Regions from separate parts of the Homo sapiens genome. Here regions 1, 2 and 3 are each reported to be linked to region 4. Evidence: microRNA targets listed by miRTarBase, many of them from high-throughput screens and not tested one by one. Region 4 holds a microRNA gene; each other region holds the end of a gene's coding sequence.
What was found. Region 4 holds the annotated microRNA hsa-miR-607 (GUUCAAAUCCAGAUCUAUAAC, at 4,164-4,184, opposite strand). A microRNA usually pairs through its seed, bases 2 to 8, with sites in the 3' UTR of a target mRNA and lowers its output. Matches are read on the target gene's strand: a 7mer-m8 pairs with bases 2 to 8, a 7mer-A1 pairs with bases 2 to 7 and ends in A, and an 8mer does both.

Region 1: miRTarBase lists ABHD10 as a target of hsa-miR-607. Seed matches in the 3' UTR shown: 8mer at 5,494-5,501 and 8mer at 5,446-5,453.
Region 2: miRTarBase lists CREBZF as a target of hsa-miR-607. Seed matches in the 3' UTR shown: 8mer at 3,129-3,136, 7mer-A1 at 3,182-3,188, 8mer at 3,505-3,512, 7mer-A1 at 3,561-3,567, 7mer-A1 at 3,635-3,641, 7mer-A1 at 4,087-4,093 and 3 more.
Region 3: the mRNA of PDLIM5 is a reported target of hsa-miR-607. Seed matches in the 3' UTR shown: 7mer-m8 at 1,589-1,595, 7mer-A1 at 1,654-1,660 and 7mer-A1 at 3,894-3,900.

What each region holds. Positions count from the first base shown.
Region 1 is chr3:111,989,843-111,997,604 of GRCh38, reverse strand. It overlaps ABHD10 (abhydrolase domain containing 10, depalmitoylase), which reads right to left. Exons shown (of 5, transcript NM_018394.4): 5 at 4,237-6,228. The coding sequence ends at 5,884. Among named protein-coding and RNA genes, the nearest start is that of TAGLN3, 5.2 kb to the left of the region's middle.
Region 2 is chr11:85,657,304-85,665,065 of GRCh38, reverse strand. It overlaps CREBZF (CREB/ATF bZIP transcription factor), which reads left to right. Exons shown (of 1, transcript NM_001039618.4): 1 at 1-7,076. The coding sequence starts at 191. The coding sequence ends at 1,255. Among named protein-coding and RNA genes, the nearest start is that of CREBZF, 3.9 kb to the left of the region's middle. RefSeq lists enhancers at 354-403, 674-963, 1,074-1,313.
Region 3 is chr4:94,662,508-94,670,269 of GRCh38, forward strand. It overlaps PDLIM5 (PDZ and LIM domain 5), which reads left to right. Exons shown (of 13, transcript NM_006457.5): 12 at 1-30; 13 at 1,471-5,716. The coding sequence ends at 1,560. Among named protein-coding and RNA genes, the nearest start is that of BMPR1B-DT, 91 kb to the right of the region's middle. RefSeq lists an enhancer at 5,787-7,762.
Region 4 is chr10:96,824,521-96,832,201 of GRCh38, forward strand. MIR607 (microRNA 607) reads right to left here and starts at 4,244; the gene lies at 4,149-4,244. LOC102723665 (a long non-coding RNA gene) reads right to left here. Exons shown (of 1, transcript NR_135921.1): 1 at 6,112-7,681. RefSeq lists a cis regulatory region at 6,126-6,325, silencers at 7,361-7,660, 7,681 and an enhancer at 7,587-7,681.

The sequences.
Region 1 (7,762 bases), not on the chromosome of region 4:
AATCTCCTACCGGCTGATGCCTGGACTAATGAAAATTTAATTACTTAGGAGATATGTGGGTGGTTTGCCTGAAAAAGACTTAGCGGTCAGTCGTTGAAGGCCTGGCAGACAGTCCTCTGAAAACAGAAAACTAGGAGATTCAGGAGAGCAGTAGGTTTAGGAAGAGACAAGGGAAGGGCTGACTAAGGCAGGTCTTGATGCTGCATGGAATCATCAGTTGAAGAAGCTCAAAAGACAGCAGCACTGTGTTGGGACACTTGGAGCTTAGGGGAAGAGCTTAGAGCAGGGAAATTGACAGAAGAATTATGGAAGTCATCATTGGTATCTTGGGGAGGAGCCATAAGGCTAGTTCCAACCTTAGACTAAGGGAACGGAGTCCCAAACAGAAACCACATAATTTTTTCCATGGCTGGAATGGCTCTAAGGAAGTTGTTGGTTTGATATGCAAAGCTTGAAACAATTCTAAAGATGTACATTTGCTTGACTTTTTTTAAACACTGTGTTTTGCAAATCTTTTGTACCCAAAGAGTCCCTCATATTATAACAGAGTAGCTGGTGTGCTTTAAGTGAATGACTGGGCCCATGCTTCTAGAGAGGATACAATGGCAAAGAGAGGGGCCACAGCAGGGCATGGAAGTGTCCAGAAATCCAGAGGAAGTCTTCAGAGAAAAAATGCTTCATCTCCTCAGGGGTGACAGTGGAAATCAGCTCAATGCCACATTTACTAAGTGCCTACTAGTATTATAGTTAATGTTTTCAACAACTTTTTCTTTCTTTTTTTTTGATTCGGAGTCTCACTCTGTGGCCAGGCTGGGGCGCAATGGTGTGATCTCAGCTCACTGCAACCTCTGACTCCCTAGTTCAAGTGATTCTCCTGCCTCAGCCTCCTAAGTAGCGAGGATTACAGGCATGAGCCACCACAACTAGCTTATTTTTGTATTTTTAGTAGAGACGGGGTTTTCACCATGTTAGCCAGGATGGTCTCAATCTCCTGACCTCGTGATCCGCCCGCCTCAGCCTCCCAAAGAGCTGGGATTACAGGCGTGAGCCACCGCGCCTGGCCTCAACAACTTTTTAAGGGCCTATGTGTATAGCTGAGACACAAAAATAAATGATACATGACAATTTGGTTTAGTAACGAAGTTAAACTTGTAAACAATAAATGCCAGATGTCATGCTAAAATTATGCACAAAGAACTCAGGTTGGTACAATAATACCTGGAGGAGGGTGTTAAGGAATCAGGGGACAGATTTATAAATGAGATTATTTTAAGTCTTGAAAGACAAGTAGGTGTTTGCCAGGTGGATAGAGTGAGGCAAGAGGGGTAGGGAATGTTGCTGTCAAAAGAAGTGTATTTAAGGTGAAAATCTTCCAGTATTAATAAAACATAGGGTTAAAGAGAAGAGAAACATAGAAAGAAAAATGAGGCTGGAATGTCAGGCAGGCTCCAGATTATAAAATGGTGTGTTTGCAAGTGCCCATGGTTAAATTTTCAGGAATTTCAAGAGACAGATGCTAAACTCAGTCATTCTTAGCAATAAGGTTATATTAACTTACTCTTAAATAAGTTATATTACAAAGAAAAGTTACTAAAAATGAAGCACTTCCTGATTTTTTTGCTACATTTTACTGTTAGCTATGTTGAGGATATTTGCGTTTATTGTCTCTATATGGTGTAAATACTATGTGATGGTGTGCTACTGGGTATTTTCTTCCAGCTTTGCATTCAGAGATGTCATGATGTAGTTTAAAACCAGCCAGGGCAGGAATATTTATGCTGTGAATGTTAGCAAATGCTACAAATCAGGGCTTCCACCCCACCACCAAAAGCCAGTTGTTAAACTGGCTTTCAGCAACTGGTTTTTGTTTGTTAAACCAGCCTTTCATGGACTCACATATCATGCAAGAGTTTGAGCTTTTTCATAGAGAGAGAGGATCATCAATCTGATTTGGGTAAAGGAAAAGGAGACAGAATGACTCACAAGTTTGACTTGTATAACAGAAGCAATGGTGGCGCCATTTATTTTAAGAGGACTCATAGGTGGGGAGAGACATAAAGCAGAAAAGATAATAAGGTTTGGATTTACTGCATTTGGGAAGCCCATGGTCCATCCCAGTTCATTAGGCAGTTGGTTTTATGGGTCTGGAGCTCAAGAGTCTAGATTGTAGGTATGTAGTTGAGTCACCTGCAAGCAGGTAGTAGTTTAAACCATGAACATGGGTGATGTTCCTCAAGGTGAATAAGTAGCAAGAGAAGACTGCCAAGGCCAGAACTCAAGGAGTATTAACATTATAAGGTGGGCAAGGAGGAGGAGCCAGTAAAGGGGTTGATATAGCATAGTCAGAGGTGTCTGAGGACAAACAATGTCAAAATAAAGCTTCTGACCTTGGTCATCCTTTGAGAGAAGGAAGCTAGGATATAAACTGAGAATTTCAAAGCAGCAAGTGGTACCAAAAAGGCATGGATAGAGTACTGTTCACAAGAGAGCCCAGAGGACCCAGCAACAAACTTCCTGAAAAAGAGAGATGGGGATGAGTAAGGAAAGGATTCTGAGAGACTGACTTTTGAGCTTCTTCTTTAGTAGAAGTTTACCTGCAAAACCCTGAAAGCCTAGGAAAAGGGGAAGACAAAATGGGAATGTATATTTTCCCCAAAAGATACATTTGGTTAAAAAAAATTGCCTGCAATTTTCTAGGTATATTCTCTAAATACACCAAAGCATCACATTTTTTTCATCCAACCATTACACATCTCCACGATTGTTTCTAAACTAAGAAGTACTTGAGATCTATATTTAGAGGATCTTAAAAAGGTATATTGAAATTCCACCCACCTCAACCCCAGAATATAAAAATTCTTTAGATTTAACTGTTCCAAATTTAATGAGTATTTGACATATTCGCTTTGGGGACTATCCTGGGAATAGTTATGTGGCAAGTAATTCTTTCAGCTTTCTATCTCCATATTTTATAAAACTCAGTGTTGCCCAGAGCTTTTTTCTTCTCATTCTCCAGAGACGTTTCTATATTGGCTGTTTGGAGAATGGTGTACTTTTTAGATTTGTATCTGGAAATGCCTCTAATCTCAACAGATGTAGCAAAAGCAAAATAGATTACGTGGCTTCACTTAGCCTTCTTTTCAAATGGTATTTGCCTTATCCCTTTCTGTTGTGCATACTGAGATTTAGAGGGGTCGTGTCACTTATTTTAAATAATGACTAAGTTCCAGGGGCTAAGGCACTGAAGGGCTCCCAGTTATTCCTCCATTTTACACGTCACTAAATACATGGGATGGAACGGTTTCAGAAAGGAGCTTTGGGGAAAACTAGAAAAAACAAATAATTAACAGCGCACTAAAATACACTAAATCTCATGGATGCAAACTCATTTGGAATTTGCGATGTTAACCTCTGCAAAGCTAGATTAAATTTTAAAAGATTTTCCTAACTTTAGGTAATAAAGGTTCCTTCTCCTTTTTTGTTTTAAACCATTAGCATTTGAAAGAATACCATACAACATTCCTATTTGGGATCTTGAGGTCAGGAAGGTCAAATCCAGTCCAGTTCAGTTCAGCTTTAGAAGACCTACCCACTTCCTTGCCTCCACCTTCCTTCCTATGCCTTCATTGATTGTGTCCATCAGTCTCTGAAGGGACTGTGTTCTGTACATAATGAAAAGCAAAAAGATACTGCCTCCTGTGTCATTGTTCTAAATGTATTGTGCTTATTTAGACCTTACACCGCATTATCTAGGTTTATGTTATTTTACAGAAGAGACTGAGACTCAGTGAGGTTAACTGCTCAGTCACAGAGCTAGTAAATGGTGAGCCAAAATTAAAAACCAAGCTTGTCTCTGACCTTAACCATTATGCTATACTGTCTCTACATATGTATTATAAATCTCAAATCATATTTATTATTTTGCGCAGAAAACCATCATTGGCAAGGGCCCTTGCCTTCATGTTCCTAACAAGCCTCACACCTAGCAATGTCTAGGCAAAGTAAGTCCTTGAATAGCCAGTGCCATCTTCTATCAACCCACTCCAGCACCAGAGACTGTGGCACTCATAGATGATTTATCTTTGCTGTTTGTAATTTTTGTCCAGTATAAAAGATAACCCATGGATTGTAGTTTAATTGCCCCGTAGGACATAAACCAGTTTTGTATCTGTGGAGAGGCCCTCACCACCACCCCCAAATTTGAAGATTTGCTAGGAAGACTCATAAGACTCCACATACAGTTCTGCTCACGGCCATGATTTATTACAGTGAAAGGATACAAAACAAAATCAGCAAAGGAAAAAAGACACATGGGGTGAAGTCAGGGGAAACTAAGTGCAAGCTTCCAAGAATCCTCCGCCAGTGGAATCACAGAGGATGAGCTTAATTCTCCCAGCAACCAGTTGTAACAGCACTTGTGAAACACTGTCAACCAGAAAAGCTTGTTAGAGACTGAGTGCCTGGGGTTTTTACTGGGAGCTGGTCACAAAGGTAGTCTCTGCCTGGCACATACCAAAATTCCAGACTCCCAGAAGGAAAGCAGGTGTTCAGGAGAAACTATATTGTTTTACAGTTTAGATATAGTAAGCTACTTTGATCAGTTCTGGGAATGGTGGAAGCCCCCTGAACTCCAAGTTCCCAGATGCCAATCAAGGGCCAACCTTGTAAAGCAGGTCTCTAAGGTTAAGTAGTCAGGTCGGCTTCATTAACACTTTTTTCTGCACAGCAATTTTATCTCAACATTTTTTCTTCAATGCCCATAAATACTCAGTTTCTTGAATTGTACTTTGAACCAGGTTTACTATCTGCTGGTTTCCTCATTAATGAGTCGAATAAGTCTTCGACACATGCTCATCTTATACACATGTATATATATGAGTCATGTTGTCAACTTAAAAGGTTTGACAGATAATAACCTAATCAAGCTAAATAAAGTCCAGCCAAAATTAATTAATAAAAAACATTAACTAAATAATATCAAGGCTCAATCTACACCTCACTTTAGTTATTTAGGAAAGAAAAAAAATAACCTTTATACTAGCATTTCACACTTTCTTACTGACTTTAGAACGTCTTCTGATTTAGGTGGCAATCACTTGCCTAGTTGTACTTAGGGCAATATTAATAAAATAATGAATGTTTCTGCAAGAAATAATATATAAAGATTAATTTCCTCTTTAATTTTACCAATCAGAATATTAAAAATACTACATCATTGTTTTAGATGAAATTCCCCATTTAAATATATTATACATAAGCCAAATTTTAGAAATAGCTCCTTGTATCACTGTACAATTTTGGGCCTTTAAAAAAAAAGCTCAATTTTAAGTTTGAATATAATGTGCAGTTTATATAACATATATATTATATTATATATACTTTATACATTATATAAAGTATTATCCTTATTGTGAACTTTATTATGCTTCTGAAATTTCTCCATCATTTCAAATTTACTTCAATAAAAATTTCCCTATATTTTGTGAATTGCATTTTCAAATCAGAAGTAATGTTACAAATTTCTGTCTATAATAAAAAACAAAATATTCACGCTTTATTAATAATCCTAATTAGAAAAGGATGCAATTAAGAGCTGGCATAGCTAACATAAGCATAAGAAAGGTAAACTTTTCTTGAATTAAAAAAAGGAAATACTTTAATGAAAAAAAATCAAGGACAGAAGGAAGGAGAAAATTTTCTAAACAGCAGCTGGTCCTTCTTCACAATTTGCATTACTTATGCAAATACATCATTAAATAATACTCATCTTATATTTACAAAATAGAGGAAAGGGAAAAACCTAAAGTATCAGGATCTTTCATTTCTTATCCCTCTTCCAATCTTCTGGATACATTAGTTTACATACCAACTAAACATGTGATACTAGTTAACTATAGTTGAGAGCTTATCAATTAAGTCATCAATAGTGTAAACAAGAAGTTGAATGTCTGCTTTTTCCCTCATTCGGTGATCACTGTGTTTTCGGAGGATGACATCCACATCTGTGCTGAGTACTCGATCGGCAACCTGCATTGATGTATGCCAAGGTACAATGTCATCCTTCATGCCATGGAGCAATCTTATGGGGCAGTTCACAGGAATTGGGCTATGTAACAAGCAGTGATGTTCAGCTTCTTTAATGAAACTGTACTGAACGTTATAAACTCCTTCTTCAGAGTATTTTGATGGCATGCTCCACACACCTTTCATCTCTACTTCCTTTTTTAGCTATTGGAAAAAGAAAGAAAAATAAAAGTATTTGTGACTTTAGGCAACATTAACACATGCAATAGTTTTAAGTAATCTAATGAAAGCAGTTCTTGAATAAGAGGATAGAGATAACAAAAGTATAACAATAATAATTATCAATAATTACTACATGCAAGGTACTGTGATGGGTATTTTATACATATTATTCCATAAGATTCTGATAATAATTCTGTTATTATTCTATTTTTATAAAAGAGGATATTATGGTTTAGATAAATGAAATACTGTGTGCAACAGTTCAGGGCTAGGCTACTAACTGTTATGGCTAAGACTCAAACTTAAATTTAAATTTATTTAATTTTATCATACACTATCTCAAATCAGATGTTGCTTCACCCCAACTGAAAAGAAAAATGAAGAGGGAGAAAAGCACTACAATTTCTTGGAATCAGTCCAGGTATCATTCATATTTAAATAAAATCAAATCTTAGAATAAACATTGTTTAGATTTCAAAATTGTAAACCTAAAAGTGCTTATAAGTAGCTAAAATGGATATGGCATAGGGAAAGAAGAGAAAGAATCAAACACAGAACTAAGAATAAAAAAATAAGAGTAATTACATTGTAACAATCATACACATACTCATGCAATTTTAGGCTGAATGTAAAGAAATATAGTTTTTCCTTCCAGAGTCCTATAAAAGAGAAAAAATTTGATTTTTGTTCTGGATGACAAAGAAGTCTTCCACATACTTCCTGAAAGCCAAACAATAATATCTGTATATTTATTCCCTTAAAATGAAATATACATGTCCTTTGACTTTTTGAGAACTCTTATTTTTTATATAATTTATCTTAATTTTTCTAAAAAAATTAGAATTTTGTATAATGAGTAACATGCAGTCATTATAGAAAACATAAAAATAATTAAAGAAATAAATCACCCATAATCCTATCTTATGGAGAGAAAAACCATTAATATATGGCTTATTTCCTTCCAATATTTGTCTATATGTGTTTTGGTTTTTGTGTAATATGTAAAATACATACATATTACACATTCATATACAGTTTTCTATGCTGTTTATTTAGTACATATATTTCTGGGTTTAAAAAATTCTATGAAAAGGTTTTAAATGCTGCACAGCAGTCCACCATAATTGACTTAATTAGTTTGACCATCTCATACTGTGGTATTGTCATGAACACTTTTGAGCATAAAAGTTTATTTATATATAATAGATTATTGGAAAGATGATCACAGCTTAAAACTAAAACAAAAATCAAGCTATGAATAGTTTCAAGACTGTTACAATCATATAATATTAAGGGCATTTCTAGAAAAATGGAATGGACATCTTATCAAAAATTTTAAAAAATAAGGAAAGAAAAGCTACACATATTTGAAAAATTTAAAGTTTCAACAAATATACTATGATTTTCCCATGTTTAAAATTGTTAATTTATTGCAAATGTAAAAAGGAAAACAAGAACTTAAAAAATATGTATGACATAATATAATCTATATGTACTTAGGCTTTAATGTATTTTT
Region 2 (7,762 bases), not on the chromosome of region 4:
TCTCCCGTCCCTCCCCGCGCCTTGGCGCGGGGGGTCGACTAGCCAAGTGAGGCGGGAGGCGACTCGGACCTTTCCCTGCATTTCGTTTCGGCCAGTGCCGGGGGCTACCCGCCCTGGGGCCTGGGATCCTTGGGGCCCGTGAGGCCCACTCTTAGCGGCCGGGGCCTACCGCGGCCCGCCGCTGGCCCTCATGAGGCATAGCCTGACCAAGCTGCTGGCAGCCTCGGGCAGCAACTCCCCAACCCGCAGTGAGAGCCCGGAGCCGGCTGCAACTTGTTCGCTGCCCTCTGACCTGACCCGGGCTGCAGCGGGGGAGGAGGAGACGGCGGCGGCCGGATCTCCCGGCCGCAAGCAGCAGTTTGGCGACGAAGGAGAGTTGGAAGCCGGGAGGGGGAGCCGCGGCGGCGTGGCCGTGCGCGCGCCCTCCCCCGAGGAGATGGAGGAGGAGGCGATCGCCAGCCTCCCGGGGGAAGAGACGGAGGATATGGACTTTCTGTCTGGGCTGGAACTGGCGGATCTCCTGGACCCCAGGCAACCGGACTGGCACCTGGACCCCGGGCTTAGCTCGCCGGGGCCTCTCTCCTCGTCTGGCGGAGGCTCGGATAGCGGCGGCCTGTGGAGAGGGGACGATGACGATGAGGCCGCGGCTGCTGAAATGCAGCGCTTCTCTGACCTGCTGCAAAGGCTGTTAAACGGTATCGGAGGCTGCAGCAGCAGCAGTGACAGTGGCAGCGCCGAAAAGAGGCGGAGAAAGTCCCCAGGAGGAGGCGGCGGTGGCGGCAGCGGTAACGACAACAACCAGGCGGCGACAAAGAGTCCCCGGAAGGCGGCGGCGGCCGCTGCCCGCCTTAATCGACTGAAGAAGAAGGAGTACGTGATGGGGCTGGAGAGTCGAGTCCGGGGTCTGGCAGCCGAGAACCAGGAGCTGCGGGCCGAGAATCGGGAGCTGGGCAAACGCGTACAGGCACTGCAGGAGGAGAGTCGCTACCTACGGGCAGTCTTAGCCAACGAGACTGGACTGGCTCGCTTGCTGAGCCGGCTGAGCGGCGTGGGACTGCGGCTGACCACCTCGCTCTTCAGAGACTCGCCCGCCGGTGACCACGACTACGCTCTGCCGGTGGGAAAGCAGAAGCAGGACCTGCTGGAAGAGGACGACTCGGCGGGAGGAGTCTGTCTCCATGTGGACAAGGATAAGGTGTCGGTGGAGTTCTGCTCGGCGTGCGCCCGGAAGGCGTCGTCTTCTCTTAAAATGTAGGGTCAAGTAATCTGCTCTTTATCCGCGTTTACCCCTTTCAACTCCCTTACACCATGTCAAACTTACCTTAGTGGGACATCTTCACCGGACACATTTCAGAGGAGAGAAAAAAAGTAATATTGAATCTTAAAGTGTTTAGCTAAAAGCATGAATGTGACACAGTAACCAACTCCTAATGATAACATGTGACTATTAAATCTCTCTGACAGTTTCTTTTTTAGGTGATTTCCTTCCTGCCAGGCTCCGTTGTAGGGGTTACAGAACAGTCGTTCCCGCCTCACAACCTGGTAAGGATCCATCTCTTCCCGTAACGCTCATGCTCTGCTGCTTTGTCTACTTTAATGGGCAACATCTCAGTTTGTGTGTGTGTGATTTTTTTTTTTTTTTCTGTTTTGGAAGGTGGGAGGGAAATCTAATTTGGGCCCTGTCCACCCTGGAAACAGACTTGTGCTGGTCAAGAATGTATTTAAGATGCCTCTTCTGGTTGAAATAGCTATTAATGTGTCCCCTTATTCAGACTTGCGTGTACCTAGCTCTTCTGTCCCCAGTGTGGACATGGCCTTGGATGACATCGGTTCCAACTGTACACTGAAACCTGCTTATAGAGAGACAGTTTGGAGACAGTGAAACAGGTGAAGTTGAATGGAAGTTCCGAGTTGTACAAGGTGCAAATTGGAATTCCGATTTTAGGGCAACTTTTCAGAGGTTGACAGTTAAGTATTTGGGGCATGCACAAATGTGATAGTTATTTTGCTGGAGGTGACAGGTATCTCTTAAATATCAACAATGCCTTTTAGTTTTCAGTATGAGATATAGAAACAGTCTATAATGGAGTAACATTTTAATGTCTCACCATTAGAGAAGTTGGAAATTAACATACATATGAGACTCCTGCGTTTTAGTTAATTGGAGAATAAGAATGGCTAATGTTTCTTTGAGGACCAGCAGTGATTACCCTATCACTGAGATTGAATAAATTGTTGAACATCTTTATTTTTGTTGTATTAAAATTTTAGGTTAAATTTATATATGTATGATTAGATATTGAAGGTTGTGAAATGTGAATGAAAACGTGTAAAGTGAGGCTTCACAAAGAATCTTATTCTCTGTGTTTCAAAAGTATTTGTCCTATTTTAAAATAATTTTTTAAATTGAGTGGTTCTGGCCACTTAAATGACACGATTGGTACTATTTTCCTAAGGTGGGATTTATTCCCTTGAATCTATTAACCAGTTGTATAAATTGAATTATGGTGTCCTTCAGTGTAAGAGGCATTAAGAAATTCTTTGTGAAACATCACTGCTTGATAAAGTATATACGTATTTAGCATCCTTGTTTTTCTTTGTGCTAAAGTGGATACAGCTGTTGGGGCAGAAGAGACGGGACCAGCTGCTGGCCACATTTCCTGCTTTATTTTAAAAGGTAGTATAAGAAATGAGGAAAAAGAGGTAATATCAGGGCTTCTGCTGTTTTTTATTTTTAACATGTTCATAATTAAAAAGTATTTTCCAGCAGTCCAAAGATGTAAGTTATCTTACACATAAAATGTTTTATTTTGTTATTTGGTTATGAAAATGGAATCCTTGTTCTTGCACAACTGTAAATGTTTTGTTGCTAGATAATACGATTTGAGACCTGAATTGGTCTTTGGTTTCCAGTGCATCACAGCATATTTTGTAAAATCATCTACTACTGCACTTGAGCATGAATGGGTAGTAGCCAAACTCACAAATTGGAGTGATGAACCTGCTTATACCTAAGGGCAGGAGCAAGCCCCTCACAATGCAGCTGCATGGGTTTTTAGTGCCTACTGAATTATATATATATATACATATATATATATATATATAAACCAAAAGTAGTTGGAAAGATTATTTGAAATGACTAATTTGTGCTATCTTTATGAAATATGTTAAATGTAGCTTTTTTGAAACAGAAGCCTTGAATTGAAATTTAACTAATACTTGAACATTTTGTATATATTTCTTTGTATATAATTTTGTGCAGTACCAATGACAAAAATATGGTGTCATAATAAAACCAGGTTTGTTGATCTTTTAGTTATGGGCTCAAAGAATTTATTCATCTCTAACATGATATTGGAAAATAATGGATGAAAATAGGAAAAATGATTGTTAATGCTGACTGTGGGTCTTAAAAGGTTCTGGAAAGCAGTAAGTTCATTTTTCTAAAAACTATAACATTCTGTTGGAGTATTTTCTTCCTTACGTCAATACTTTTCCTGCATTATTTGAAATTGTGGGCTGGGGAGAAACAGTAGTCAAAGCTTTCTGAATTGAGATACTTTGAAATTCCAAGTGTAGATTTTTAGAATGTCATTTTATAAATGGCAGTTTTTGGAATTACTTGATAAGAACTTTTGAAAATGGAAGGATTAGTATGGCCTATTTTTAAAGCTGCTTTGTTAGGTTCCTTATGTTTTATTAACTGTCTTTTCTCAGTTTCCATTTCATTTTTTTTTTTCTAGTTTTGGTGACTTAGTGATTTTGTCATTTTTTACATCAACTTCATGGTCTTGTTTTTACATGGTAATTGCATGTACTTAGGATCTATCTAATAGGGGCTTTAAATAAATTTGGTCATATTTATGTGTAAGCACATTTTACTGTAAATGTTTGGGTTTCTGAATTTAAACAGATCTGTTTATTTCAGTATGTAGTAAACAATATCTTAAAGTGTCCGATTCACTACTTGTTAATTAAAAAAGTTATGATTAATGTGAAACTGTTGTCTTACTATTTTTAGAAAATTGTGTTCTGGATGATTAGCACATGGATAAAGGAGATTTCTGGAATATAAAATGGATTGTTTTTGAAATTTCTAGGTTTGGCTCTATTTACTGTAATGGTTGAAAACAATTTAGTATTTGGGTGACCCTTTTGTTTTTCTTCTAAATGTGCCTCTGGTAAAATACAGAACTAGACTAAAGATGTAGCTTTTTAATATTTGTCTTTTGATGGTGGCAGGAGTTCATACATTAATTGAACTAACACATCATATTTTGACCTACTATTTCTATCATATTGACTTACTGTTTCTGCACTTCTTTGACCAGACTTATCTTAAAAAGTCCACTTTTGTTAAAATGTAGTCACACCTCTGATATAATCCAACAAGAAGTGTTCAAAATATTTTAAATATTTGTGCATTTTATAATCACTAAATTAATCTCTCTCTCTTCTCTTTGAACAGCTTAGCAGTGTCTGCAAAAACGAATCTTTTCCTACAACCTGTTAACTGACTGGACTGTTGGTAACAAAGTAATTGTGAGAACCATGTCGGTCAAAAATTTGGCATCTGCTGAAAAAAATGAATGCCATTTTCAAGTTCCCAAATTACTTCTATACTGATTTCACTTTCCAGAAATGGAGATATGAAAAGATTCTCTGGAATCCTTGAAAGACTTAATAGAGATACATGAGACTAAGTTAATCTTGGAACAAAATTATACTTTTTTTGTCTTTCATGGGAGTGATACTCAGTTATTGCATATCTTTACAAAATTGTAACCTTTGGAGAATTACAGTATTTCATCAAGAAATTAGAGTTTTTACATAATCAAGAGCATATTCTATGGAATTAACATTTAGTGGACTAGAATTACATAAGCAGGCCATCAGTGATCACAAGGCATATGAGTTTGTATTTATTTCCTGGAACATGAGAGCTAATTTGGAGTACAGACAGACACCCTGCTGAGTAGAATATAAAAGTTAATGTAAAGTTCTGAACTATAAAGAGTAGTCCTTTTAAATAGATGCATTGATTTGTATATCTTTGAAAAAGTTGATTATGATTAAATGTGTGGGTAGTTAATTACAATTTAGGGTAACAACCAGGATGTATGGATTCTTGAGGTTTTGGCTTCTTGAGCTTTCTCTTGAGTACTTGATACTGTTTTCTGAATATTTTGAGGTTTCTAATTAATGGTATGCTAGTTTCTACTGTTTTATATAAAAATTTATCTAGTGTTGTATAAGGACTTTAGTATTGTGGATGATGGGAGTGGCTTTTTGTGGCATATGGTTGTTTTAATTGAAATATTTTTTCAGTTTATTACAAGTGTGAAAAAACACTCAAAACTCTGGATTGTTTTATTTCATTTTTGTTGGATTATGTTAATACATTCCTTCACGTGGTTTAGATTGAGTCATTTTATCTCACTTACTTGGAAATGTGCAGCTGATAGAAGAGGGATTGGGTAGGAGATTGGCTTTTACTTCATAATAAATATACAGTTGGTTATTGTATTATTCAAAACTTATTAAATCCATTCAGTTTCTTACCATTTTAAGTGTATTCAGTGCCTGTGAAGCCAGGCAGCAGAGTATTCCCACTGGCTTAAAACTTAGGCGCTGATGCTCCTACAGTACAGCTAGTTATAATTCCAGAACCAAAGGCACCAACATTATTTGGTGACCTTAACTACTACTTTGATAGAACAGACTGGGTAATTCACTGATAATGAGTCATTACCTTTTTAATATGTGATTATCTAGTTCAGCATTTTGAATGTGTAGTTTAAGGTCTGATTTAGTAAAATTTTAAAGCTAAATAATCTGATGACTCTTGAAAGTTTAATTGGTAGTATGACATTTATGTTTTTTTCCCCCAGACTCACAGCCAATACAAAGTTTTGAGACTCCTAAATGTTAATATTTTTGCTGTTTTTCTGAGCTGTTTTTTTATTTACTTACCACCTAAGCTGCGGATCAAAAAGGGAATTCTTCCATTAGAAATTTGTAGTGTTGTGTGGCCAGCACAGTATTTTTCAGATTTGAATTTCAGTACCTCTGTGTAGCCTCAGTACTCTCAACACCAGTCACTCTTTATTGTCTTAAAATATTCCATACTTTTTGTTGACCCAAAATTGTTGAAAATATTTTGCTCAGTTTTCACAATGAACTAATTGAAAAGTGTAGTTACTGTGTTGTAAACATTTGTGTAGTTCTGTTAATACACTGATTTGAATTTTATTTATCTCAACTTCCTTTAGCGTCTGCCTCCAAATTTTGTCTTTGCTGTATACCCACTGAGATCAATTCCCTAGACCCCTCTGGCTCTTAGTGTACTATAATTTGGGCTTTATAAAATATATTGTCTTAATTTAAATAGAATGTGAGCCCTCTTTTTTTTTTTTTAAGCCAAATAACTACACAAAGTAAATTATAAAAGATTTAAATAGTTTGTCTACAGTGACTAGACTGAAATATAAAAATTGATTGAGGGTAGTTTACTTCAGGTGTTAGCTACAAATGACTAAATGTCCTTAAATAATGCAGATATCTGCCCTCTGAACAAAAATTTTGGCAAAGTAAATTTGTAGCAACAGACTTAACATGATTTATTGCTTATGTTGCCCATTTCTGCTAATGGAAAAGATAATTTAAAAATATGTGGCAGAGGACAGATATTAGAAATACTTTTTGGTTACAGAAACCATTGTAAACTCATCCTCATTTATAAATGGTATTATGCTAGGGAGTAATTGGACTAGGAATGTTTAAAGATAAGTAAGGAAACAATGTGTGCTCAATCGTCAAAGAACTTAGTTATATCATTGGGCTTTGAATTATCTAAGTTGATTACATAATTCTATATTCTTAAGGAGTCTTAACTCGGTACTTGGGTTAACGCCAGAAATTACTTTTAATTCATTGTTTTTTTCACTGGGATGAGTAGAACTCTGCTTTTAGTAAAAGTGACAGAATATAGGTAAAATGGATGATTTGGGATCAGAGCTTTTCATCTTGATATTTTAGCCTGTAAAATAAACAGCTATATTGTTTTGCCCTTTAAATGTTATATATATTTTTCTGTCTTTCTTTCCCTAGTTGTAAAAGTAAAGCATATTCTTTATAGAAAACTTGGAATATCCTGAAAGGAATCAAGAAGAAAAGAAAAATCACCCTTATAACTCTATAAGCCATAGAATATCCACAGTAAACATTTTGGCATGCTTCCTTTCAGTCTCTTGTGCACATAGATTCTTTTGCCTCATAACTGGGATCATTTTTTATATAAGTTTGGTAGATAATATATTTTATGTGCCTGTTGAAAGAACAAATCATCTTTGCTTTCTGAAAAATTGAGATTGTATTTTATTAATTTCACATGAGTTTTTCATCTTTGGCAGCACAGCTTTATGTTTTTCTTTAAACAGAAGCTAAAGGCCAGTTTCACTCACAAAGATGCCTTTTCTAAATTATAATTTTAAGTAGCATAAGATGACTTAACAGATATGTCACTATTTGGAAGTAATAATTAAGAGATTCATGAATAATCTTGGATGCCACTTAAAATTTTGTTTGGTACTTTTCTGTGATGATTGGCTTGCTTCATAAGTGTTGGTTTAGATCTACGCTGTCCAATACTGTAAGCATTAGTCACGTGGCTAAACATTTTAAATGGTTTAAAAGTAAAAATTCAGTTACTCAATTGCACTTGCCACATTTCAGGTGCCCAGCCGCTACATAGGCTAGTGGC
Region 3 (7,762 bases), not on the chromosome of region 4:
ACCTGGCATGACACTTGCTTTGTATGCTCAGTAAGTAGAGTCTTATTTCCTAATTAAAGGGGTATAGTATGGCCAATTCTAGCTTTAGTATTTAATGGAAATATCAGCTTCTGGGTCTTTCAGTCCTTCAAACCTAAGGAAAAATTATTTTTAATTTTTTGTAAATTTCGAAAGTTGTTTATTAAATTTTTTGGCATTTTTGAAATTATTTGGCACACAGTGAGATCCTTAGTCCTTAGAGAAAATACAATTTTAATATATTTTTGTCTATAAGGAGAAGCTATGTATTTCTTAAAACAGTAAGATTCCTTTACTTAAAAAAAAAAAAACCTCTGTTACTGGAGTGTTTGTTGTAGTTTTTGGAAACGTTAGGTACTTCTTAAAATACAAATAAATAATTATAAAAATCGGCTATTGGATTAACACTGGGAATAAACTATATGTTGAGTCATTTCTTTTCTTAGCAATAGCCCCTGGATATTCTTTTCTTTTTGAGACTATGGTCCAATAAACGTGATAAAGTATTTGCCTATTCATTTGATATTTTAATATTTTTGGTTTTATGTTTAATGATTAGGATGGATTCAAATATTAAAATAAATAGTTTTTAAATGTAGGAAGTAAATATCCAGTAAACGTGCTCTGTTCAGGTGTTTGACTTTTTAAAATTAGATTTAACATATCTACAGTTTTCAATACTCATTGTACAAAGGGGGCAAAAGTAATATTAATCGGTGCTTAATGATTTCCCCAAACATTACCATTGAACTTTTGCTTGTTTACCTCATCCATCTCTTAGACTTCATAAAGTCTATAAAAAGCAGAACTTTTAGCAGATTTGCCTTTTCTTTTCTAATAAAGCTGTTCATTCTAATTAACAAAGGCAATAGGAAGAACAAGGAGCTGTAAATGTAGATAGTGGACTGACTGTATAATCCTCAGCAGCCAGATACTGACCTGGTTATAAGAAACAAACAAAAGAGGTCTCAGCTTGAACACAAGGCAGCCCTTAAAAAAAAAGGGTCTCAGGTATTCTGTGCCTGTGTAACTGGCAGCAAGCTAATGTTGGGCTTGGGAAGGTTTGGTAAAGCAAATGAGTCTCTACAACACAAAGCAAAATTAGGACGTTGTTTATAATTTGGGGAGATAAAATATATTTAACGAGCCCCCTTTCTATATTGATTTTCAAGTTAGGGATAAATCTTCCCTCTGGATAAAGAAAAGTGATGATCAGTGCTTTCTATAAATTAGAATACATTCTAGGAAAAAGCAATTTTTCATTGCTTTTGAAAGATTATATCTAATGTTATAGTAATCGTCAAATATTAGGGAGTCTAACTTAACCAACTAAAGTGTTTTGTCATATTATCCATTGGGGGGAAAAATCACTCTCTCCTTCTCCAGCATACTGGGTAAAATCCTCTTAATATCCTCTTAAATAATATCTCTTAAATGCTGCTTCTTTTTCAGGTGTGTTGTGAAAGTTTGGAAGGTCAGACCTTTTTCTCCAAGAAGGACAAGCCCCTGTGTAAGAAACATGCTCATTCTGTGAATTTTTGAAAGTCAACAGTTCAGGAGAAGAGAAGGAATTTGAAGAGAAAAAGGAAAATTAAAATTACTAATTAATTTTTAGATTCAATATTTATATGGAGTTTTGAAAAATAATAGTGGCCCTGAAGGAATAAATTCCAGCTTTAAAAACCAAGTCTGAGGAAATATTTGGCTTCATAAAGTAAAGAGACGGTTTGGCATTTATTATTACTTTTTCCTGTATTTTATGCCCATAAAATAAGCTTTATAAAAACCAATTTCCTGATGGACTATTAAATTCATCTTAGAATAAATTAGTGAAGAATTTAATTTTAGAATAAATAATCCAATCTGAAATAATTATACCTTCTTTCCTTGTTAGGTAGTTATGAGTAAATCTGCAAAAGGCAATGAAAATGCCTTAAATTTTATCAATAACAGAATTATTGTATTTAAAAAAAAACTAATACTTATCTTTAAAATAGTAAATAGGATTTTAAACAGAGAATTTTATCAGTAATAGGTGTCAGTTTTTAAAAAATTGCTTGTAGGCTGAGCGCGGTGGCTCACGCCTGTAATCCCAGCACTTTGGGAGGCCAAGGTGGGTGGACCACATGAGGTCAGGAGTTTGAGATCAGCCTGGCCAACATGGTGAAACCCCATCTCTACTAAAAATACAAAAATTAGCCGGACGCAGTGGCACGCGCCTGTAATCCCAGCTACTCAAGAGGCTGAGGCACGAGAATCACTTGAACCCGGGAGGGAGAGGTTGCAGTGAGCCAAGATCGTACCACTGCACTCCAGCCTGGGTGACAGAGTGAGACTCTGTCTCCAAAAAAAAACTTTGCTTGTATATTATTTTTGCCTTACAGTGGATCATTCTAGTAGGAAAGGACAATAAGATTTTTTATCAAAATGTGTCATGCCAGTAAGAGATGTTATATTCTTTTCTCATTTCTTCCCCACCCAAAAATAAGCTACCATATAGCTTATAAGTCTCAAATTTTTGCCTTTTACTAAAATGTGATTGTTTCTATTCATTGTGTATGCTTCATCACCTATATTAGGCAAATTCCATTTTTTTCCCTTGTGCTAAGGTAAAGATTTAATTAAATAATTTTGGCCTCTCATAGTTTTCTCTCTCTTTAAAGAGAATAAATAGAGGGCCAGGTGTGGTGGCTCACGCCTGTGATCCCAGCACTTTGGGAGGCCAAGACGGGCGGATCATGAGGTCAAGAGATCAAGATCATCCTGGCCAACATGGTGAAACCCTGTCTCTACTAAAAATACAAAAATGAGCTGGGCATGGTGGGGCGTGCCTGTAGTCCCATGTACTTGGGAGGCTGAGGCAGGAAAATTCTTGAACCCAGGAGACGGAAGTTGCAGTGAGCTGAGATCACACCACTGCACTCCAGCCTGGTGACAGAGCAAGACTCCGGCTCTTAAAAAAAAAAAAAAAAAAAAAAAAAGAGAGAGAGAGAATAAATAGAAAAGAATGTGGCTGGGAATTGTGAATCAGAAGATTATACCCCCCAATTGTTTTTCAATCCCCTTTTCTCAAATAATAAATTAGTTAAATCAGTTTCTGAGTTATGCCACTGGCTGATGAAGAGTTGAGAGGTCTCTTTGCAGAATGATCTTTTTGTTTCGTTTTGTTTCTTCTTCTGCATTTAAAAATTAAAAGATTGGTTTGAGGATGTGATGAAATTGAGACTTTTTGTGGTTTTCTCTCAATAATAAGTGAACCAATTTCAAATGTGATCACAAAGTTTGGAAAGCTTTTATTCACAGAGGTTGGGTAGTGTTGGGAGGGGAGTTTAATTACTCAGATTGGCCTGTTATTTGATTTCCTCCTTTGGGAAAAGAATTATGTAGATACCACATGGAGACAGGGAAACAATTGTGGTAAAACTGTGGATCCTGTTGCTATTTGCCCAGTGAGAAAACAGATTCTGGTATTTGATTTGGTTTTTCTCTTTGTTTCCAGAATGGATGAAAGTCCATGAACCTCCTAAGTTATAATTTAAATTTGTTTGGGGCAAGGTGATTTTATAGTCGAGACAGAGCCCTAGGTCCTTCCTGCCCCATCACTCACTTACGACATCACTTCCATTGTGTGCATGTTTGTTATAGAGGAGGTTTTAGGCTACAATATTTGTTTAACCTCCCTAAGAACTTTCAAGGCATCTGTCCTGAAAGCTGTTAATTTATGGTCTAGCAGATTTATATTATATGCAGATAATAATTAACTGGGGATAAAAGAATGGCAAGGGGTGACACAAAGTAGCAAACTGAATACTTCTCCAATAGCAACCCCAAGCTACCTCCTCACCCTGCATCTTGGAGGGAGGCAGGAAATTTCTTTTGAAATAAAGTGCTGGAGCTGAATTCTGCATTATTTATCGTTGCTGCTGAAACCACCTATAAAAGACTTGCTGGCTAATGTGCATTGTCATATAATGTACACTGTCACATCTTTACAGTCTTGTATGTTATAGAATACAAAATAAGTTGATGGTTTTGTTTGGTGTGAGCTTTTTGTTTGTTTGTTTAGTTTTGCCTTCATAGGTTATATGCCAAGATAGTATTTGATAAGTCAATGACATTTGGATGTTTTCTTCAAAGAATTTTATTTGACCCAGATTTCTTATAAAGTTATCTTACATTAAGGATGTCATTTTCATCAGACCTTCTTTCTACATATTATTCATGAAGCATAATGTTGCATTTCTCCAAATTTTATGCCTGAAAGGGTAGTGTTGCTTCCTAAGGTATCATGTTGTCTTTGTGCTTTGTCCATCTCTTCCGTGGCGAAGCTTTATATCTGTTCCTAAAACAGTTAATCCTGTGAAATAAATATTGAACATAATCCAGAAGAATCTCTCTGTTTCCCTTGGGGAATGCCATATTTAATTCACCAGCAGTAATCCTTTAATAACTGGCAGAGCACTTTATTCTTCTGGTGAGCTCCCTGAATATTTATTTTTCTGATTATAAATTTTCTATATTAGTAGCATTTTTTAATTATTACTTCTTCACTATAGAGCATTTACTTTTAGTCTCTAGATGTATATTTTGGAATGCTGTACTTGGCATAACATAGATTAAAATCATAATGCATGACTAAAAACTCCTTGGATTTATTTCCCATTTTAAAATTTTTAGCGGTAAGTTCAGATTTATAATCTTTCTCTAGACTTCCATGGTCTGAATGTTGCCTGCTGAAGTAGCAACCTAAAAAGTATCCCCTGCTTATGCTTGTCCAGTTGGCCCTCCATGTCCATAGGCTTCGCATCTGTGATTCAGCCCACTGTGGGTCAAAAATATTTGGGGAAAAAAATGGATGGTTGCGCCTTTGCTGAACATGTACAAACTTTTTTTTGTCATTAAACAATATAGTATAACAACTATTTACAAAGCATTTACATTGTATTAGCTATTATAGGTAATCTAGAGATGATTTAAAGTGTATGGTAGGATGTGCATAGGTTATATGCAAATACTACACCATTTTCTATAAGGGACTTGAACATCATGGACTTTAGTATCCTAGGGGGTTCTTGGAACCCATCACCCATAGGGGCACCATAGGACAACTATAGTACCGTGTTTATTTCCTATTAATTCAGGTTCCGTTTAGAGTCTAAAACTAAAACCTAATCATTTAGTCACAGTGTAAAAACAAATGGAAATAACAGCTCAAATCTTCAAAATATTACTATAGCATTATGTTTAAAATAATCTACAACAAAAATGTACCATTTTCAAGCAGTACTACATTAGGAGCCCTTTTATAGAAAATAATTTCTTCTTTACCCCCGTTCCAGTGTGAATCTAGTATTCTGTTAACATTTGTGTGGCATTTGGAGTTTGTCATCCCCATTGAAGGGAGAGCCTTCTCAGACATGAAGCAAGGGAAACATACTGAATAGTTTTACACAAATTTGATCTGGCTTCCATTTGTCCCCCTCATTTCCCAAATGTTTAAATGTATTGGATTTGGATTCTCAATGTATAAGTTGCCTTATCTGTTAATGTCTATCTTCTGTCTCTTTAATTTTGTATATCTGCTGTTTTGCTTTTGGATACATTTTCTAATTAGAAGTCACATGATAAATATAATCAGTATAGTAATAATACCATAATGTGCACATACTCAATAAATAAATGACTGCATTGTTGTAAATGAGCTCTCCTTTTTGTTGTTGTTGGTTGGCGAGTGGTTTCCATCAAGTCATCATGGGAAAATAATCAAGTTCCATATTCACAGGTTAGGATAGGATGTAATAATTCTCAGAAGAACCCTTCTAGTATGATATTTGCTTATCAAAATGTCTCAGAAACAAAATATTTGAAAATACTGTCACATTTATTGTATTTCTCTCTGTTCTTATGCCGTGCATGTAGAATGTACCCAATGTTTATGAATTAATAGATAAATAAGGTCTATTGTCTTTTGAAAATATTTATTGCTGAAATGATTTATTGGAACAACCTGTCATATCAAACATCATATTAGAACATAATCAAAGAACATAAATCATCATCCATATTTCCACATTTTGCATTAGATATTGGGATGCTTAACTCATCTCAATCTCATTAACTGACTATTCCACAACTAGGTAGGCTCACCTCTGCCTCATTTGTTTATTAGTTTAAGATATTTTTCCAACTGTATAAAGTTAAGACAGATGTTTCTGTTGCACGCTCTATGTTGGGAATAAAAGAGAAATTCAAGTCTATTTGCTCACAGTATATTAAACTCCAGAAGCCAAACTTTTAAGAGCATCAAGTCTGCATCTGACATTTTAATAGCTGCTGTTTGGTTTCTATCAATCACGTCATTGCACATTAAAATGCACCGACAAAATAAGAGATCTGTCATTCCTTCGTTAAGAAACAGTAATCCAGTACAAGATTTATAGGCTTAAGTCTCAACCGTGTGTTCACAATAAATCCCCATTCAGTGCTCAAACCAGAGCAAGCCTCCCTGTCGTTCAGTGTTTTCTAGTCGAAATGTCCCCAATATAAGATTATCAAAGGTTTTCTTACAGAACTACATATAAAATCCTTTTGCCAGCAAAAGCTTAATTTGGATTGGCGGTTTCCCTTTTTGGGTATGCTCAGACAAGATCTTGGTTATATCAGAAACACATAGGTACTGATGTATTATTAGCAGGCCTGGTGTTAATTAGGGAGAATTACCAGAAATAGTTTGCTTCGTGGAAATTTATTGCAGAATCACACTTGACTGATGGCAGAATAGGAGTTGCTGAGAGAGAGCAGCTCCCACTCATAACCACTAATTAATAGGGTGCCAAAATTCCGCAGAGAAAGTTTCATCCCAAGTGTGGGAGCCTCCCAGGGAAAATGGTTCTTTTGCAGTATTTAAAATTTAACAGAGGAAAGGTGCTAGGACACATGGCTACCTAACAGAAATCTCAGACTGATATGGTTTTGTGTTGTACGTATGAATGAGAGGATTTAACTCAGTAAGTACCGGGCCCAAATGTTGCCTGTGTATTTATCGTATATGGAGATATGCATATTATTTTTAATGCGGCAAGTGCCTGATTTGCCAAACTATTCATTTTCTGAGGAGAATTTACAGGACTGTATACCATTTGTCTATAGTATTATATTACAGAACTTTTGATTCTGTGATTTAGAATCTGTCTGGGTAGGTGGCAAGATTGCATCAATGATTAATAAGAAAGGTGTAGCCTTCATACCTTGAACACAGGGTTGGGGAAAAGTGAGATGCATTTTGTGATTTTCGCTAAAGGTAGAGCACTAGGGGAGCCCTTTTAAATAGAAGTTTGCCAAGAAGGCAATTTTTTTATTTTGTCCTGTCTGTGACTGCATGTAATAACACACAATAAAGCTTGGAGCTGTTGTTTAGTGTAGAATGGGATATTTCCATGTCCGAAAACCACTTGTCTGACCTTGGGGAGATAAATAAAGCAATTTAGAATTCTCAGGGAGTATAATTTTTCAATTTCTCAAATATGGTAAATACAGTTCCCAAGGAAAATGACTTCTATGCCAGGTCCTTGAGTTGATTGACACGGTCTCTTATGCATCTGTGTTTCAAAGGACAAAGTTTCTGCTCTTTCTGTCTGAAGTTTTCTAATTGGGTTCCAAATTATTTTTCATCTTCATATTCTAAACTGTCATGTTTGCTCTCTAGTTCAAATATAATGATTTTTTTTCCTTTTTCCTCTTTTTT
Region 4 (7,681 bases):
ACATTCATATTCATAATAAACATAAAACATACGTCTACACAAAAACTTGTACACAAATGTTCACAGCTGCATATTCATAATAGCCAAAAAGTGAAAACAATGAAAATATACATCAACTGAAATACATAAACAAAATTTTGTATCTAAATGATGAAATATTTAACAAGAAAAAATTAAAAAATAGATATAGGCCAGGCTCAGTGGTTCATGGCTGTAATCCCAGCACTTTGGGAGGCCAAGACTGATGGATCACTTGAGGTCAGGAGTGCGAGACTAGTCTGGCCAACATGATGAAACCCTGTCTCTACTAAAAATACAAAAATTAGCTGGGTGTGGTGGTGCACAACTGTAATCACAGCTATTTGGGAGGCTGAGACAGGAGAATCACTTGAACCGAGAGGCAGAGGTTGCAGTGAACCAAAATAGTGCCATTGCACTCCAGCCTGGGCGACAGAGTGAAACTCCATCTCAAATAATAAAAATAAAAAGTAAATACAGATACATACTACAACATAGATCAACCTTTGTTTAACAGGTTGCTATGAAAAAACTATATAGATGAACCTTAAAAACATGCTAAGTGAAAGCAGCCAGTCACAAAATACCGCATATTGGCTGGGCACAGTGACTAATGCCTATAATCCCAGCACTTTGGGAGGAGGCTGAGGTGGGCGGAACACTCGAGCCCAGGAGTTCGAGACCAGCCTGGGCAACATGGTGAAACCTGTCTTTGCAAAGAAAAAAAAAAAAAATCCCTCCAAAATTAGCCAGGCTTGGTGGCACATGCCTGTAGTCCCAGCTACTCCAGAGGCTGAGGTGGGAGGATTACTTAAGCTCAGGAGGCAGAGGCTGCAGTGAGCCAAGATTGCACCACTGCACTCCAGCCTGGGCACCAGACCAAGACTGTGTCAGAAAAAAAAAATCACATATTGCATGATTTTATTTATGTGAAATGTCCAGAATAAGAAAACTCATAGAGAAAAAACTAGATTTGGCCAGGCACGGTGGCTCACGCCTGTAATCCCAGCACTTTGGGAGGCAGAGGCGGGTGGATCATGAGGTCAGGAGATCGAGACCATCCTGGCTAACACAGTGAAACCCCGCGTCTACTAAAAATACAAAAAATTAGCCGGGCGTGGTGGCGGGCGCCTGTAGCCCCAGCTACTCGGGAGGCTGAGGCAGGAGAATGGCGTGAACCCGGGAGGCGGAGCTTGCAGTGAGCCGAGATTGCATCGCTGCACTCCAGCCTGGGCGACAGAGCGAGACTCTGTCTCAAAAAAAAAAAAAAAAAAAAAAAGAAAAAACTAGATTTGTTGTTGCCAGCGGGTGAGGAGATGGGGAATGATGAATAACTGCTGATATTTCAGGGTTTCTTTCTGGGGTGATGAAATGTTCTAAAAGTGATTGTGGTGATGGTTGCACAACTTTGTGAATATACGAAAACCCCCTGAAGTGTACATTTTATTCTTTTATTATTTTGTAATGGTACTAAGTTCTAAAGATAGTAGAAAAGCTAATATCATCAAGTTCCTTAAATGATAGTAAGAAAACCTTCCGGGCTGGGCGTGGTGGTGGGTGCCTGTAATCCCAGCTACTTGGGAGGGTGAGGCAAGAGAACTGCTTGAACCCGGGAGGTGGAGGTTGCAGAAAGCTGAGATTGTGCCACTGCACTCCAGCCTGTGTGATAGAGTGAGACTCTGTCTCAAAAAAAAAAAAAAAAAGAAAGAAAGAAAGAAAAGAAGGAAAGAAGGAAAGAAGAAAGAAAGAAAAGAAAAGAAAGAAAGACTTCTGATGCCAGAAGCCCCCTCCATCAACAATCTGTCGAGCAATGTTCTTCACTCAGAGGCTCCCATCTGACACTAGGTAGGGAAGGCGTTGGTGCCCTTTGCCCATAACTAGCCCATGACAGAATGCTGCCTTGGACAGAGCCCTCACTCACTCCAAAGAGGCCAGGAATGCTAGGTAGGGAGGAATTTACATGCCTAGGCCAGCTCTGGACCAGCCCCAGTCCTATGGTACAGAGAAGGACAGTGGCAGCTAACGAGCTTGGAAAAGTCCAAAGCCAGCCTTGTTTAACACCAGTAACAATTTTACCTCTACACTGAGGGCTAACATGCATCCAATTCCAGTTCCTCTTTCTCCATCTAAGTAACTCCAGAGGTGGCACTAAGCCTGGCCCACTCACACAATCTAGGACAGAGCAATAGTCAGACATCTCAATGGGCTCAGCTTCCCAGTAATAGGAGTTACTGAGAACAGCACTGGGGGAGCCTCTGTCCATGTCAAAAAGGAGCATCTAAGAGGGGTTACTGCCATAACTCCATCCTTCTTGCTGTGCTTTGAGAAACAGAAGCCAAATCCTACCTCCCTTCAAAGAGCTCTAGTTGCTATGGGAACCAATCCCACCCCCCACTTGAGTCCCGAGACTTAGGAGGGTATGGAGCCAGGAGGAGGCTCCCGGGTGTCTCAAGAGCAGCCACACTTCTCTATCAAGGATGCGTTCACACAGTGAACGCTCATCTTACGTTCGTCATCCTGGACCGTTAGGGAGAAGAGAATGACCTTGGTGGGACTACAGGTCTGAAAGAGCCAGGAACAGATCAATAGGCACTCCCCTCTTATAGTGCAAACTTTGAGTGCAAAGTTGGATTGATGAAGCTCACTGTTGAGGGTCAGGCAGGTCCCCTGACAGTAAGGGAAGCTGGAAGTCTTGGGTGCAACAATACACTCACCGCAGGCAGCTCTGTGAAGGTTCACCTTGCAATCCTGCAGATGACAGAGCTTCTCTGCTGGAAATATATCCTGGCCATGGTCTATCTCCCCATGATTCTGGCATGGGATCCCCAGAGTCAGCTGCTCCACAGTAGGGATAAAGCATTTCTGGACGTAAGGCAGGTGAAACAGAGGTGGCTGTGTTGGGGACAAGGTCATGAACAGCAACACTATGTCTCACTTGCCTTTGATACTAAAACACTGGTTCAGGCTGGGGTCAGACGCATTAGTAGCTGTAATCTTTTCCTCTGCCAAGAGGGTGGGCACCACCTCCATCCAATATATTAGTAAACAGTAGATCTCCAATAATGATCCTCCTTTCTGACTGGTAGGATGAAAAGATAATGGGGAAAGAGCCCAAGAGGAATCTTTCGCAGTTGGTGGTGGTTGGGGGGCAGGGGTTGATGGGTCTTGAACTCTAGAACAAGCTTAGTGGCATGGGGATAGTGGACACCCAAACCCATAGCTATATCAAGGAAACCTCCAAGAAGGGAACTGCCTCAAAACAGACAAGCCAGTAGCTGTGTAGGAACTAGGAGCTTTTGGATGTGAGGGTAAAACCATGTTGCCAGGCAGAAAAGATCTCATTTATGCAGAAAGGCAGCACCCGGCTGGGACAGTCAAACATTTCTACCATGCTAAAACATGCGCCAAAGACCCAGAGCCAAGAGCCCAGGAAAAAGCCAAGAGATGCCACTCCTCCCACTGCCTGCTTTCAGATGAAGTGGACACTTCAAATGGGCGAATTTTATGGTATGTGAAATATATCTCAATAAAACTACAGAAGAAAAATAAATGTCACACGTACAACATAAAGTAAAATCATACATGTTTTCTAGGCCAGTGGCATAGAGGTATACAGGCTGAAAAGAGAGAAACTCTGAAAGTTATTTATTTATTGAAACAGGGTCTTGCTTTGTTGCCCAGGCTGGAGTGCAGTGGCATGATATCAGCTCACTGCAACCTCTGCTTCCCGGCTTCAAGTGATTTTCCTGCTTCAGCCTCCAAAGAAGCTGGGATTACAGGTGCACCCCATACCCAGCTAATTTTTTTTGTATTTTTGGTAGAGACAGTGTTTCACCATGCTGTCCAGGCTGGTCTCGAACTCCTGACCTCAAGTGATCCTCCCGGCTTGGTCTCCCAAAGTGCTGAAATTACAGGCGTGAGCCACCATGCCCGGCCTGAAAGTCTTTTATTAAGCAAAAAAAGCCACTACATGAGTAGTTTCTCAAAAAGACCAAAAGCCGTGTGACCAAGTGACATGGCTTCCTTTCTGTCTGGCTAGGTCTTGTCTCTGACTTAGGTCTCATTTCCCCGAAATAGCACTGGAAGCAAAAAATAGTGTGATGGTTAAAGAGCCGGCTTTAAGTAACTCGCCCAAAGTCACACAAGTTATAGATCTGGATTTGAACCCAGGCAGTCTGGCTCCCTGGGTTCCAATCCAGATCTATAACCTGTGTGACTTTAGGCAAGTTACTTAACCTCTCTGTGCTCTGTTATAAAATGGGATACACGATTGGGTTGTTGCGAAGAATAAATAACATAATCTTTGAAACGTGCTTCAAAAAGCATCTCTTGCTTGTTGGAATTTATTTGAAGTTGACTATGTTTTTTTAAAAAAGCCTCCCATTAGGACATGCTTTTTTTAGAAGGCCCCAATCATTTCATCCTCCCATTTGTCAATGATCATTTCTATGTTGCAAGCCATCTTTAATCAGACACCAGGTAGTAGTTGATCTAATGCTGACAAGCCAAGTCCTACTCCCCTTCCCTGACATTCCTTTTCTGCCATTGTGAGAACTATAGAACATGGCTCAGAGGTTGTTTTCAAAGGCTGAGGTCATTGCTATCATTCCTTCATACTCTCACAGATTAACTCCAAACTGCAGAAGCATCTTGGTTTCCCATCATCCTGCAGACTGGGCAAACAGATAGGAGCTTAGGAAGGCCTAATCAGAGAACAGATGCTCATTTCATGCTAAGAATGTGCTAGCACTGTACGTGAATAGTTTCATTTCATTTTCACACAAACCCCATCTTGCAGACTATTATTATCCTCTTTTTCACATGAGGAAATTAATGACCAGAAAAGTTAATATGTCAAGGTCACACAGCCACTGAAAAATGGAGCCAGAATTCCAACCCAGCTGTCTTCAGACCCTATTAACTGCCATGTTATATTACCTGCCCCTCCCTAGAATGTAAGAGTTTACAGCTAAGGCCCTCTTTAACAGTAGCCCAAAGCAACAGAGGTCAGAAATTCTGTCTTATCTATCTATGTCCTCGGTGCCTGGGACACCGCCTGCCATGTGATAGGAACACAGAATGTCCAACTGCTTAACTGTGCTCGGAACATGTCATGTAGAGTTAAGTGAATCCTCCAGTTGCAGAGTCTATTTTCTACTTGTAAGACTATTTATTTATTTACTTATTATTTATTTATTTATCAAGATGGAGTCTCAGCTCTGTCGCCCAGGCTGGAGTGCAGTGGCACGATCTCGGCTCACTGCCACCTCCACTTCCTGGGTTCAACGGATTCTCCTGCCTCAGCCTCTTGAGTAGCTGGGATTACAGGTGCCCACCACCATGCCTAGCTAATTTTTGTATTTTTAGTGGAGACGGGGTTTCACCATGTTGGCCAGGCTGGTCTTGAACTCCTGACCTCAAGTGATCTGCCCACTTCAGCCTCCCAAAGTGCAGAGATTACAGGCGTGAGCCACCGCGCCAAGCCAACTTTCTACTTGTAAGACAATTTAGAGGGGTTTAGAGTCACAGAGATCTTAGTTAGAATTTGGTAGCTATGTGATCTTGACAAATGTATTTAACTCATCTGAGTCTTGTGTCCCTAACTTGGAAAATGTGGTAAATATATACTCATAGCATTATTATCTGGATGGAATGAAACAATGATAAACATATAATAGGTGCTCAATGAATATTAGCTGTTACTATTGCCTCCCTATCCTTTCTTCCAAATAGGTCTTTGTGATAGGTCAACCATGAGTTAGTTCCCAACTCAAAATAAGTGAAGCAGAAATTGGAACTCAGAGTAGAGTAGTAAAACTAGCATTAAATTGGAAATTGGGAAACTTGTCTCCTGGCTTTTGTTGCCCTTTCTCTACCCAGCAACTATGTAATCTTGGTCAAATCACCTTACTTGTCTGGGCTTCCAATTTCATATCTTAAGTTACAAAATTGATCTCTGAAGCCTCTAGGATTCTCTGAATCCATATGTCTGGGACTAAGAGATTATGTCGAGGAATTATTACCCTTGGTTTGATTGTTTTTTAAACAAATTAACTTGGGGTGGTTGGAAAACACATTGATTATTTACTCATCTTAGAGTTACACGTTGTTCATTTATTTGAAACTGAAACGTATTTCCTCCAAACACCGTAGAAACTTAAAGGCCGCAAAAGACTCACACCCACCACCTAGCGGCGAAAAAAGGAAGTTTCAGGTGATACAAGATGTCCTGCCATCACACCTGAAGGATGGTTGTCCACAGCCATTTTTTAAAATCTCGTATTAGTCCTCTTCCTTCAACACTCAGGACAGTATTATGTACCCAGAAACTCAATACTTCCTGGCGTCTTCATTTGACAATACTCTTAAGCCAATGAAATCCTGTGGGACGTTTGCGAATTTTATAAAGATCAATGTTTTAAGATTGGCGGGGTGGGCTGGGAGTGGTGGGGGGGAAGGTGCCTTCCTACCCTTGCATTTGCATCTCAAGCCACCCGTACCCGAGGCCCACCCAGTCCATCTGTTCATTGGTAGATACACCATTCCGCCATTCCGCCAGTGGCTGGTGCAGAGAACCAGGACCACCACCTTTGAAAAGACCTAAATCAATACTCCAATGGGATCCTGATGTCAAGTATTTAACGACTTTGCTTTACCTACTACAGTAATTAAAATTAAGTCTTCAAACTTAAATTTAAATTTCTAAAAGCAGGAATGCACTGTCCTTAATCTTAAACACCAAAGGTGGGAGAAAGAGGCCAGAATCCTAGGGTACTAGGCCTACTGGTATAGGGCGATCTCTTCTGCTTTTTTCTTTCCACCCCATTTCTTTTCCCTTTCTCCTTTCGTTTCCCATCTTCTCTCTTCTCGTTCTCTTCGAAGTAACAGTGACAAAATTAAGGTGATTCAATTATTCCAAGAGGCTTGCTCATATAAAATATTTCTCTTCAAGCCCTTTCCTGAAATCCCAAATTAAAGCATTTCCAATAGTCTCTGCTTTAAGTATTCCTAGTTAAGTCTACTTTTGGAAATATTAAATATTCTCACTTTGGCACAATATTCCAAAATTCCTTGAGAAGTTCGCCTACGATCAGTCTTGCTAGTAGAAACCTTTTTTTTTTTTTATTTAAAACGCTCGATTTCCACTTTTTACTAGGTTTCCCAATGTTGGCGATGTCTCCCAATGACTTAATAACGTGTATCCACTTCACCTTTGAAAATCTTAGAGGTCAGTGCATCCACCGGCATCCGGGAATTTATTCTTATTTCTGCTTCTTAAACAGGCTCTGGGGAGGAGCAGTTTCGACGGAGAAGTTCATAGCAGCAGTTATTACGGAACTTGCAACAGTTGGTGCCGGGCGATAGGCAGGTTGGAAGTGATAAATGGGGCTGGCGTAAAAAACAAAAAGCCCCGGGGAGGGCGGGGGCAGCCGTGGCCTTGGGGGACAGTGCGAAGGCGGCGCGGGGCCAGCGGGACTGACTTCCGGCTGTGGGAAGGCGCCGTCCCGGGCGGCCAGAGGCGGCGGCAGCCGCGTAGAAGGACGGCGGGATCGCAGCCCGGCGGGCGGCGCGCGGGGCGGGTGAGCGGGCCCAGGCCGCCCCCGGGCCACGCCGGGGCCACGGTGAGGTGAGGCCGGCCCTGCCCCCGCACCGCCCCCGGCAG